Linked DNA regions of Homo sapiens: region 2 is linked to region 1. Evidence: fine-mapped expression QTL. A gene starts in region 1. The other region holds a variant in brackets. All regions are shown on one strand. Distances are between the middles of the regions. Region 1 holds the start of C1GALT1 (core 1 synthase, glycoprotein-N-acetylgalactosamine 3-beta-galactosyltransferase 1). Region 2 holds the start of LINC03016 (long intergenic non-protein coding RNA 3016).

Region 1 (5,386 bases):
TGTCCCTGTTTCAGGTTCAAAAAAAAAAAAAAAAAAGGGATGGGTGCATATCAAATGGCTAAAGCGATATTTCTTCCATAAAGCTTTCCTTGAGTCTCCTCTACAGAAATTCACTTTTATTTAATTGATGGTCACATGGCCAGCCATGACTTATGAAAGTCTAGGGGCATGAATATTTTTAACTGGCCACATTGTCACCCTGAAGAAATCAGAGTTCTACTAGTAAAGAAGAAAGGATTTTGGTTTAGACAACTAGTAATGTCTACCGACCTACTCCAACGAGTTTTGACATGCATTATTAAACACTAGACACAAGAGAAACAACAATACTGAGGTTTATGTGTGTTTCAAGTATGTTTCAAATGGGAGAATCTGGTCAGTTTTGAGTCCCACATATAAAGTATATTTTTCAAAGTAACCACAATTTTTATTCTCTAATTGAAAATGTCGAAGAATTGGCTGACATTAATGTCACTTCTAGGAATGTGTTCAAGGAGATAATTGCACAATTGTGCAAAAGCCTATGGATAAGAATGTTCATCAGAGACTTTTTTTATGGTAGTAAAAACTTGGAAACATAAATGTCAATCAATAGAATACTGGTTGGATAAATGATGGTATATCCATTTAACAGACAGTATGCAACTTTTAAAAATGATGTTATTCATGACTGTTGTTCACTGTGCAGATAATACGATCCAATTTATGAAATATTGTATTTATATGTCTATATGTGCTTTTATTCTTAGAGAGATGCCTAGAAGAATGTAACACAAAATTTAAGAAATGGTTATCTCTATATTATGGTATTTGGACAGATTTTAACTTCTTTGCATTTTTGTTTAAATTTTTTAAATTTGTTTGCATAAGCATGTATTGTTTTTATAAAACAATAGTTATTAGCTGGGTGCCACAGCCTGTGCCTGTAATCCCAACTACTGGGGAGGCTAAGGCGGGAAGATTGCTTCAGCCTTCAGCCCAGTTATTCGAGGCTGTTGTGTGCCAAGATCACACCTGTGAATAGCCACTGCATTCCAGCCTGGGCAACATAGAAAGACCATATCTCTTCAAAAAAAAAAAAAAGCTATTTTCAAAGAAAGGCAGGGTGGGGGCAGGGCTGATTTGGTCCAGTATTGTTTCTAGCAAGTAATTTTCCAGGATAAGGCTGTGGCTGACCTTATTTTAGGAAAGGGTTCTAATCTTTGCTCAATGGAAAAAAGTGTTATTCTTTATTAATTATAACTTTTAATAAAATTAAAACGAGATAAGGAGTTGTGAGTTTTGGTTTCTATTTGGAACACTGACCCCTGAAAGAGTTCTCCTTCCATGTTTCACAATGGATGGCAAGACATTGCGGAAAGGTGGAAGGATGTTGCGGAAAGGTGGAAGGATATTGCGGAAAGGTGGAAGGATATTGCGGAAAGGTGGAGGGGGAGGAGGCTGAGCAACAACTGTATACAAGTTGGGGAGGAGTAGAGAATGGACGTAATCATGTAAGGCAGAGAAGTCTGGACCCATGAGCCAAGGAAAGAGCAATAACCTGGACATCAGGATAGCTGCACTTCTCTTCTAACATGGACCTATCAGTTTATCTTTCTGGCCTTAGTTTTGTCATCTGAAAAATGAGACATCTGTATTAGAATCACTACATGTGCTTTATGTTTCACAATTCTTTTGGATATATTGATGCAATGTCCTGAGAAACTACACTACAGCTGAACCTAAGCAAATTAAAGGAAAAATAACAATAACTAATGTATATTATTATTTGTCTCAGGCATTCTAAGTAACTTGCCAATAGGTGGAGGGACCAAGATGCCAGCCCGGGCAGTCTGATTTCAGAGCCCATACTCTTTAACAACCATGCTGTAGAGTACTAAAGAACCGCTTGGATAGGGCATTTAAAGGAAGCAGGGTAGCTTTCCTATTCTGGAACGTGGTCTTGTAGATAATGGTTAACGCCAGTAAAGACTAAACCTTACCCTCACCTCATGACTATTGTGGGGTTGCCTCAACAGGTGGCAGCCTCCTCCCCCTATTCCAAAGACAACTTCCTTATTCAGAGCCCAGCGAAAGGGGAGATAGGTTTTGTTACGCCCCTAAGAAGCTCTTCCGGCCATTGCCCCACAGAACCGAAGTGCTGACAGAACCAAAGACGAAATGTGCCTATAGAAAGCTTTCTGGTATCATTATCTCGGTTCTCAGCTCTTCCTGGTTCTCACATGATGACCCAGCACCCGTATGCATACTTCATCTTATTACTTCCTTTTATTAAGCCCAGAGAGATACTGAGTAAAGAGAGCACGGGGAGAGAACAGAAAAACAAATGAACGGGTTAAGAGCAGGCTACAGGCCACAAGAGTCCTGCAGGGTTAGAGCCTGTACCTCAGACAAAGGTCCTTCAAGCATCCCCTTTCTCGCTCCCTATTGTTACCCTGCTTTCGTCCCGCTCAAGGTCTTGAAGCTAGTGCATAACCTTACAGCAGGATCAGAAATGCGGAGAGTAGCAGACACAAGCCGCAAGGGGGATACAACAAAATCTACTGCTCGTGCAAGATCCGACTTCCCAGACCCCTTCGCATTAGGGCGGAGCGTGCACCCGGCAGCCAATCCCCGCTTCCTCACGTCGCCGTATCCCCGCCCACCGCCCCTCCCGCTCCGCCCTTCCCTGGGGCTGGTGCGGCGGCGGAGACGTCAGCGCCAGGAGACTTCGGGTGGCGGCTGCGCCATAGGCGGGCCACGGCCTGGACGCGCTGCGGGGAGGGGCGGAGCGAGCGGGCGGGAGCGCGCGCTGGGCCCGCCTTGGCCGCCGCCGCTGTGCTGCCGCTGCCGGGGAATAATCTGGGCGGCAGCGGGCGGCCTCGGCTAGCGGCCACGAGCCACTTCTGCGGCTGCCCAGAGAAGCAAAGGTCACCAGTCCCAAGTCGTCCCCCTCTCCGCCCCCCAGGAGGGGCGAGAGGGAGCCGCAGCTGATGTCAGGTATGGCCGGCGGAGGCGCCCTCAGGCTACGGGTCCAAGGTCTCGTCTCCCCTCGCCCTCCCCCCTCTCCGGGTTGGTGGGGAAGCGTGGAGGATGGAACCAAACCCCGGGCGCGGCGGAACAGGTGTCTCGGGGTCAAAGCCGGGCTGGGGTCGTCCGGGCTCCTGAGGAAGGCGCGAGGACTTCCCGCTCCCGGAGCCTTAGCGATCTGCCACAGCGTTCGGCTGCGTACCCGGCCTCAATTTTGTGGACATGTACCCTCCTCTTCGTCGTGGGTCCTTCCCTTGTGCCCGCTCGCGCCCCTCTTCTGCTCGCGCGCTGCCTGGCGGCGCGGCGGGGCGCGCAGTGCGCCCGGACCGGACCACTTAGCGGTCCTGCCCCGCCGGGCCCTCCCAGTCCCTCCTCCCGGGCCCTCCCCGCCCCGCCGCAGACCTGTGGGTCCCGCCGGACTGGGCGCCCAGGTGTTGGGCACCTTCGCCGGGGAGCCACTCGGCTGCCGCGCCGCCTGAGCGCCCAGCGAGCGGGCTCCTTCCAGAGGTGCCTGGAGCTTGCTTGGGTCTAGCTTGGATCATCAGGTTTGTCTGTAGCTGATTTATTTCTTTAAGTTTCCCTGCCGCAGAGTGAAGCAGATACGTGTGTGTTGGGGCATTCGGGGCATGGAGGAGGAAGAAAGGCATTAAATTTTTTTTTTTTGCTTCTGCACCCCATTTTTCCCCAACAAATTGTGATGGAATTAGTAGGTGTTGACAAGTTGTCCATTTGCTTTGAATTTGGGTAAGTCGTACACTCTTAAAAGATGACCATAATTTAGCGCTGTGGATTTATTCTTTCCTGGTCCTTACCGTCTCCCCACCCCCCACCACCCCGCATTTAAAGCAAACAACAGTATCAGCAACAAAAAACCCACACATCCTGGAAAAATTCTCAAGATTTCTAACCTAGTTCTCTATATCCATTGTACATACTACTGTATTTCCTTTTAACGCTTTTTTAAGATAGAAAACTATTGTGCTAACCATGGATTGATTTCATTATGAATTTAAAAGTTATAAATTTAGAACCATAATGAATCAATGAATAATTGGCCGATGTGTAAGGGAGAGAAATATGTTAACTTACTAAAAGTTGGGCATAGAACATAGCTCTGCCAGGAAAAAGTGCGCATAATTTCAAGTTGCTTCATTCTGGTGTGAGTTTGGGAAGTTGGAATCCGAGTTTTTAGAAGGTATTTAGATGACAGCTTTTCACCCTCTTAGGTAAATGGCAGTTGAGCTTAATGCCCATGATGCTGTATGTTCTAAATATTGTATATAGTACACTATACTTTCTACCAGTCTTTATATATAGATGTACAGTTTAAGTGAATATAAAGTTTCAAGTTAGCAAACAGTTAACTCTTCACCTTATGGTAAGTGAAACAATGACTTAGTAAGGAAAGTATGACTCATTTAAAATTCTTCATAAAGAGAATAATTTTTCAGTATTAGTGGAGAGCTACTAAATGCCTCTCAAATTTGCCTGGAATGTGTATTTTTTTGTATCTTCCTACTTAGGATTAAGCATTTTAGAAATATTTTGTGTTTCCTATTTAAAGTTTTTCATAATTATGCTTTTTAAGACTAGACTACGTTGAGTAAATTCAATATCCAGTTATTCTTAAAATTGTATCACAAATTTATTTCAGGGTACACATAATGAGTTCTTGTTTACCTAATAGAAATATGAAAAAGTATGTCACTAGGCACATGCTACTATTTGTGTATTGATTTGTGCTAAAATTAAAATTGCATTATGCAGTTTAACATTATAAGCCATGGTAATTTAGAGTCTTTGTGTGGTAAAATCATTGATTGGAATTTTTGTGACAGTGCAGCTATAAATAAACCTTAAGTAGAAAATGGAAAGCTTGATGCTGAAATTAAATTCAGATAGGCTTAAAAGTTTAAGCTTCCCAATACAACCATCTTTTCTTTTAGAAGATTTCTTAAGATTTGATTAAAGACGCTGATGTACAAACTATAGCAAGGCTGAAAGAAAGGTATGACAAAAATCTTTTTACTTCAAATTCAGTGGGATTAAGTCATTCTTTTAAAAGAAGAAAGGTGGGGAGCGGGAAGGAGACTTGTTCCATAAAATGAGAAGTTAGCCTTTTATCTTAAAATCTGGTTAGAGAGGAACTCCAATGTGTACTTAAATTATTTTGCAGCTAATTCAAATGTCCAAGGGGAATATATATGCCAAAATCTGTAATATGTGAGAATAGGAAGAGGGAGAAAAAAAATATATAAAGAAACTGGTGTTTGTGATTTAGGGAAGCACATAAGAAGGTGGGGGAAACTGAAAGGAAAGTCTAAATAAATTATCTAGCACCTGTAGTATGTGCTGCCTTGCACATTGAAGGGGCGTG
Region 2 (5,386 bases), 72 kb after region 1:
TGCCATTTCTATGACATAAGCCCATTAACCCACCCAAGTTGTCAGAATCAAGAGGAGGTGTTTGAGAAATTGTTTCCTCTTTTTAAACATTTAACATTTTTCTTTTGTGTTAGTTTTTCTTCAAAACGTACAAAAAAGTACGCATCATTGTATCTTGTGTATTTACTACCAGCTTTTACTAGATAAGTCATCTTTCCATTGAAAAAGTGATAAGCTCCATTATTTTAAAAAAAACTTAAACATTCATTGCAGATGACCATTTCAAAGATGAAAATTTTTAAAGGACCCCAAACCCCACCACCCCCCAAAGTAATTCCAATTAATGCATAAATATAAATTGGATAGGAAGCTAAATAGATAGAAATGGTTTTATTAAAGTGAGATCGTGTAACAAATGCTAATTTTAACATTATAATTTCAAAAAAATACAGTTGCTCTTGATGTGGCCAAAATCTGCAAATTGTCCTGGGGGCAGGGAGAGGGGAATGTCATCTTAGCAGCAACAAAATTGAGTGATTTCTTTGGGAGGGGGAGATGGAGAGAGGAAGAACGGACTGGACTTAGGCTTCTCTGTAGCAACATTCAGTGCTAAAGCAGAGTGAAGCAAACTCTACCAGATTCTTGGGGGAGGAAGAAGCCAAGTGATTTCAAATGGAAGGGTAAATTGAAAGAGTGAGGGTGGACACTTCTTGAAAAATCTAGATGATGAAGCCCATCTAAAGAGATAAATGGACAAACATTGAGAACAGGACTGGTGGTGGTTAATTATTTAACTATGTAGCTATAGAATTATTTAAATAAGGCTATGGAAGCATATTGAAATGTTATAAATCTTGATATAGAAAAGATGATTAACAAGTTAGAAAATAGAATATCAAAGACGAGGTAATATATACATGCCCTAATTGGTTTTACTTTTCAGAATAGAAATTTTGTAAAATTGATAATATATCAAGAAATAGGGATGTAATATTCTGAATAGTTATGAAGGTAATCACCAAAACTGTAAGCCTGATAACTATTAAAATGAAAACACAAAATTAAAGATAACACAGGCCATATAAGAGAGCTAAAGGGAGAATTTACAATAGATGACAGAATTAAGACCAAACATAGATATGATGTCAAATAAGGAAAAATATGATTTAACTTATAAATGTATGAATATACAAAAACTGTTGGCAGTACCTTTGGGGAAGGGTACTAGGATTGGAAAGAAATTCAATAATTCACTGTTTTCCTTTTTGAACTTTTAAAAAATCATGTTTATACTGTCACAGTTTAGAGAAGTAAAGTGGGAAAAAAAAGCTGTTGGCCCTGGCTCCCTAGGGTTTTTACAACCAGTGGTGAAGAATGTCCACAGACATTCTTAAGCAGCAGTAGAGGTAAGCAGGTACACACATGAGCTGGAAAGATCTCAAAGCTGATTTGGATTCTTTTATCTTGCCATAAGAAATTACTTTCTTCAATCAAGGGTATAAAGACTGCTGAACTAGTTCATAATGAGGGTAGATGAAGGAGGTATCCATCTTCAAGAGTGGTAAATAGTTGACCCATACAAAGGACCAGCAGCCTCATGTGGACCCGTCTTAGCATCCTTCTCTCCTTCTACTCCAAGGGTGAAGAGTACTCGGAAGTTACTATTTATTCTCAAATCCTTGTGTCAGATTATTTTCATATCTTTCTTAGATCTGTTCTGGCTTAAGTCTTATTCTCTTATTCATGGAAATAGAAGACACTGAGCCCTTTCCCACATAAAAATATAGGACTACTGATTTCTAGAGCTTAAAGATGTTCTAACGCCTCGTTTGAAAGATTCAGAAACAGATCTAGAGATGTTAAAGTTTAGAAAAATGACACAAATAATGCCAGAAGTGGCAACAGAACTCAATTTTCCTGACTCCCAGGTTAGTGGTCTTTGTACTAAATGCAATTTCTTATCTTCCCTGAACAACCTGAGCTATGTACTTTAACAAAATTTTTTGTGGGTACATAGTAGGTGTACGTATTTATAGGGTTCATGAGACACTTTGATACAGCCATGCAACAAGTAATAATCACATCATAGAAAATGGAGTATCCATCCCCTCAAATATTTATCCTTTGTGTTACAAACAATCCAATTATACTCTTTTAGTTATTTTTAAATACACAATTAAATTATTGACTATAGTCACCCTATTGTGCTATCAAATACTAGATCTTATTCATTCTTTCTGTTTTTCTTTGACCCATTGTACTGCTAGATAGAACTCACATATTTGGTCCCTGCCTTTTCCCACCATTTGCAAATAGATTCTAGGAACGATCCTAATAGTTGCCAGGCACTGTTATCAGAGATCAAATCTGTCTTGTTTCCAATTGTGCCTGGGACATAATAGGATTTTTTTTTTTAAATAACAAAGCCATGTGTAGTGCTGCATGCCTGTTGTCCTAGCTACCCAGAAGGCTGAAGCTCAGGAGTTCAAGTCCACCCTGGGCAACAAGACTCCATCTCCACAACAAAAAAGTTTAAAAAGGTTACTATACGATTACTATACATTGTATGTATCAAAATATTACTCTCTCCCCCATAAATATGTACATTATATATCAATTAAAAGGAAGTAAATGGTGAGCATCCTTTCACTATGAAGAAAAGTTCTCCATATGCCCCCTACTTTCTTCTGTTTCATTTTTATGGAGACCTCTAAACAAAATGCTTTTCTCATAGATATGGAGGGACTCCTAAACAGGTTTTCTGCTTGAGAAAATCTTGATTTGAACTCCACGTATCATACACCATCAGGCAAAAAACCTCGCATTTACGTTGGAGAATACAGTCCAGAAAAAGAACAAAACCTCAAGTGTGGGCAGAAGATTGTGTGTATTTGCTATTAGGGAGGAGAGCTCAGGTTCCTTTTCTCTACAGTGACCATTAGACATTCCAAAGCACTGTCACTTGGTGTAGCTCAGTGCTCTTGGTTACTGAAGCAACAAGTGATCTCTGATGACA[A/C]AACAAAGGTAGGGTCGTGCCTAACACTGGTAAGGAGAAAACTGTGTCGAGTTAGTTAATAATTAATTTACATGTCAAGTTACAAGTTTTCTATCCTAAAATCCAAAAAAAGCAACAGCTCTTTTTTTTCCTCCAGTCATTAAATCACCCATTCAACAAACTTTCACCAGGCTCATGGTTTGTCAGCTATAGAAGAGAAAGGAGGGCGAAACCTGTGGTTAAGGCTTGCCTGAAGGATCTCACATTTGGGTTGGGGGCTGACATGCCAGTGAACAAATAGCCTCCTCAGGACTATGATAGAGGTATTTACAAAGAACTATAAGAGGACTGTATATTAAGTGTTTAGGGATCTGAGAAGTTTCAAAGAAATTGTGGCATTTGAACTGGATTTAAAGAATAAGGCTCAGGTACAACTTCATGTGAAAGAGTCGATATATTCACAAATTTGCCAAAGCCCAGTTAACTTCAATTCTTCGAGAGTTCCAGTTTTTTCCCAGGTGCAGTCAGTGTACCATTTTTTTCTGAGACCCACAGCCATTTTCTTTCATTGGCATGTTTTTAGGTTTATTTTTCAATAACTCCAGTACCCCTGAAATTTCCTTCCTTAGATCTTGAATAAATATATTCAAGTTGGGCATTACTGCATGGTTTGAGGATAATGTCTTTCCTGTTAAAAATATTTTTAAGTTTTTATACAAAGGTAATGTATGTGCTTGGTAAAAGAGAATGAATATAAAATGAAAAGCTATAATCTGCTACAGCCCCACCCAGCAGTCCCTTTGTCCAGCCATAAACAGAAAATAACAGAACTGTACTCATTTCCAAACTAAACACATCATTCTGCTCCTTGCCTTTTCTGCTTACTGTTTAATAACTTAGAGATAATTCTTTTTAATAGTTAACTAGATCTCTGTATGGATGTGCCACAATTTTTAAGCCATTCCTCTATTGATAATTGAGTTGGATACTTTTATTATAATTATTGCTGCACTGAACATCCTTGAAATGATTGTGTGGGTACAGCCATAGGATAAGTTCCTAGCAAGTAATTGCTGAGATAAAGAATGTATGCATTTAAATATTCATAGATACTGCCAAATTGCCTTCTTAAACTGTACTGTACTACCTTATACTACTACTCAACATTTGCGAGTATATTTTCCTGCCCCTTTTACCAAAGTTTTTGATTATTGAACTTACTAGTTTTATCACTGCATTAATATCTGATAATTGTTGATTTGTACTTAAGGTTTGAGTTTTTTTTATACATTGGTAATTTGCATTTCATCTTCGCCAGTTTTTAATATTGAATTACTAGGGTTTTTAAAAATTTTTATAAACTCTCTGAATATTGGTTTATTTATATGTATTAGAACTGTTATGATTATTTCGTACTTGTTTTTTCCCCACACAAACCAATTAATCTTTTCTTAGGGCTATTGAATTGTGTGTCTTGCTCACACCAAGGTTTATTTATAATATGCTTATGTTTTCCTCTTACTTTCATAGTTTCATTTTTTGTGTTTATATTTTTGATCCCTCCAGAATTTATTTTCTTATATGGAGTGAGGTAGGAAAATGGCTACCCGTTTGTTGTAATACACTTTATTTGACGATCCTTTCTTTCAACATTTATTTTAAATCACCATTACCCCATGATATTTCATTATCGGTTTGTGTATAAACTGTATTCTGGTCTGCTTATCTGCCTATTTCTTGTGCAGTACATTGTTTTAATGATTTCAGATTCATAACACTTAATAACTGACAGAATGAATTACCTACTTAAACATTTCGTACAGACACTGTGGTGGATTCTGCTACATATCATGGCATTATGCCATGAATGCTTTCCAGCATTACTGGCAGAAATAGCCACCCTTAAAATATGCCCCTCGTGATCCTCAGCGGTTCCCAGGGTACAGTGTAATGTGTACCCAGAAATGGGTTGCCCTCTTGCCCATTCCTGGGCTGCCTCCTAGGGACAGTGACTCCAGTTAACTTGCTGCTTCAGTGGGCACTACCATCTTCTGCTGGTGACTTCTGTCATCTTGTTTGACCCTGGGGAAAAGACTTATTTTCCTCTTTGTTGCCCACAGTAGAGACCAGACTTTCCTGACCGTTCCAGAATAATGAAAGAAAGGGTCCAGATAGTACTTTATGAGAGCGGCCAAGCTCCAGTGGAATCCTCTCCACCCTTACCAGGCTACTGCTCTGCCCTCTTTGCTACCTGTTTCCAGGTCACCAAAGGTAGTTCAGCTACCCCACTAGAAACCTTCAGTTATCAGCACTTCTTTAGAATTGGAGCCAAATTGACATCTGCACTAAAAGAAATGAGGAAGGTTTCCACTCACCTAACACTCTGGACACCCTCCTCCCAAAATTCCTGCT

The links.
Region 2: its variant is fine-mapped to the expression of C1GALT1 in thyroid (GTEx, PIP 0.91).

The regions. Positions count from the first base shown.
Region 1 is chr7:7,179,842-7,185,227 of GRCh38, forward strand. C1GALT1 (core 1 synthase, glycoprotein-N-acetylgalactosamine 3-beta-galactosyltransferase 1) reads left to right here and starts at 2,703. Exons shown (of 4, transcript NM_020156.5): 1 at 2,703-2,979. RefSeq lists silencers at 2,443-3,052, 3,273-3,492.
Region 2 is chr7:7,252,176-7,257,561 of GRCh38, forward strand. LINC03016 (long intergenic non-protein coding RNA 3016) reads left to right here and starts at 2,979. Exons shown (of 4, transcript NR_108073.1): 1 at 2,979-3,003. The variant A/C (reference allele first, on the strand shown) is at 2,996.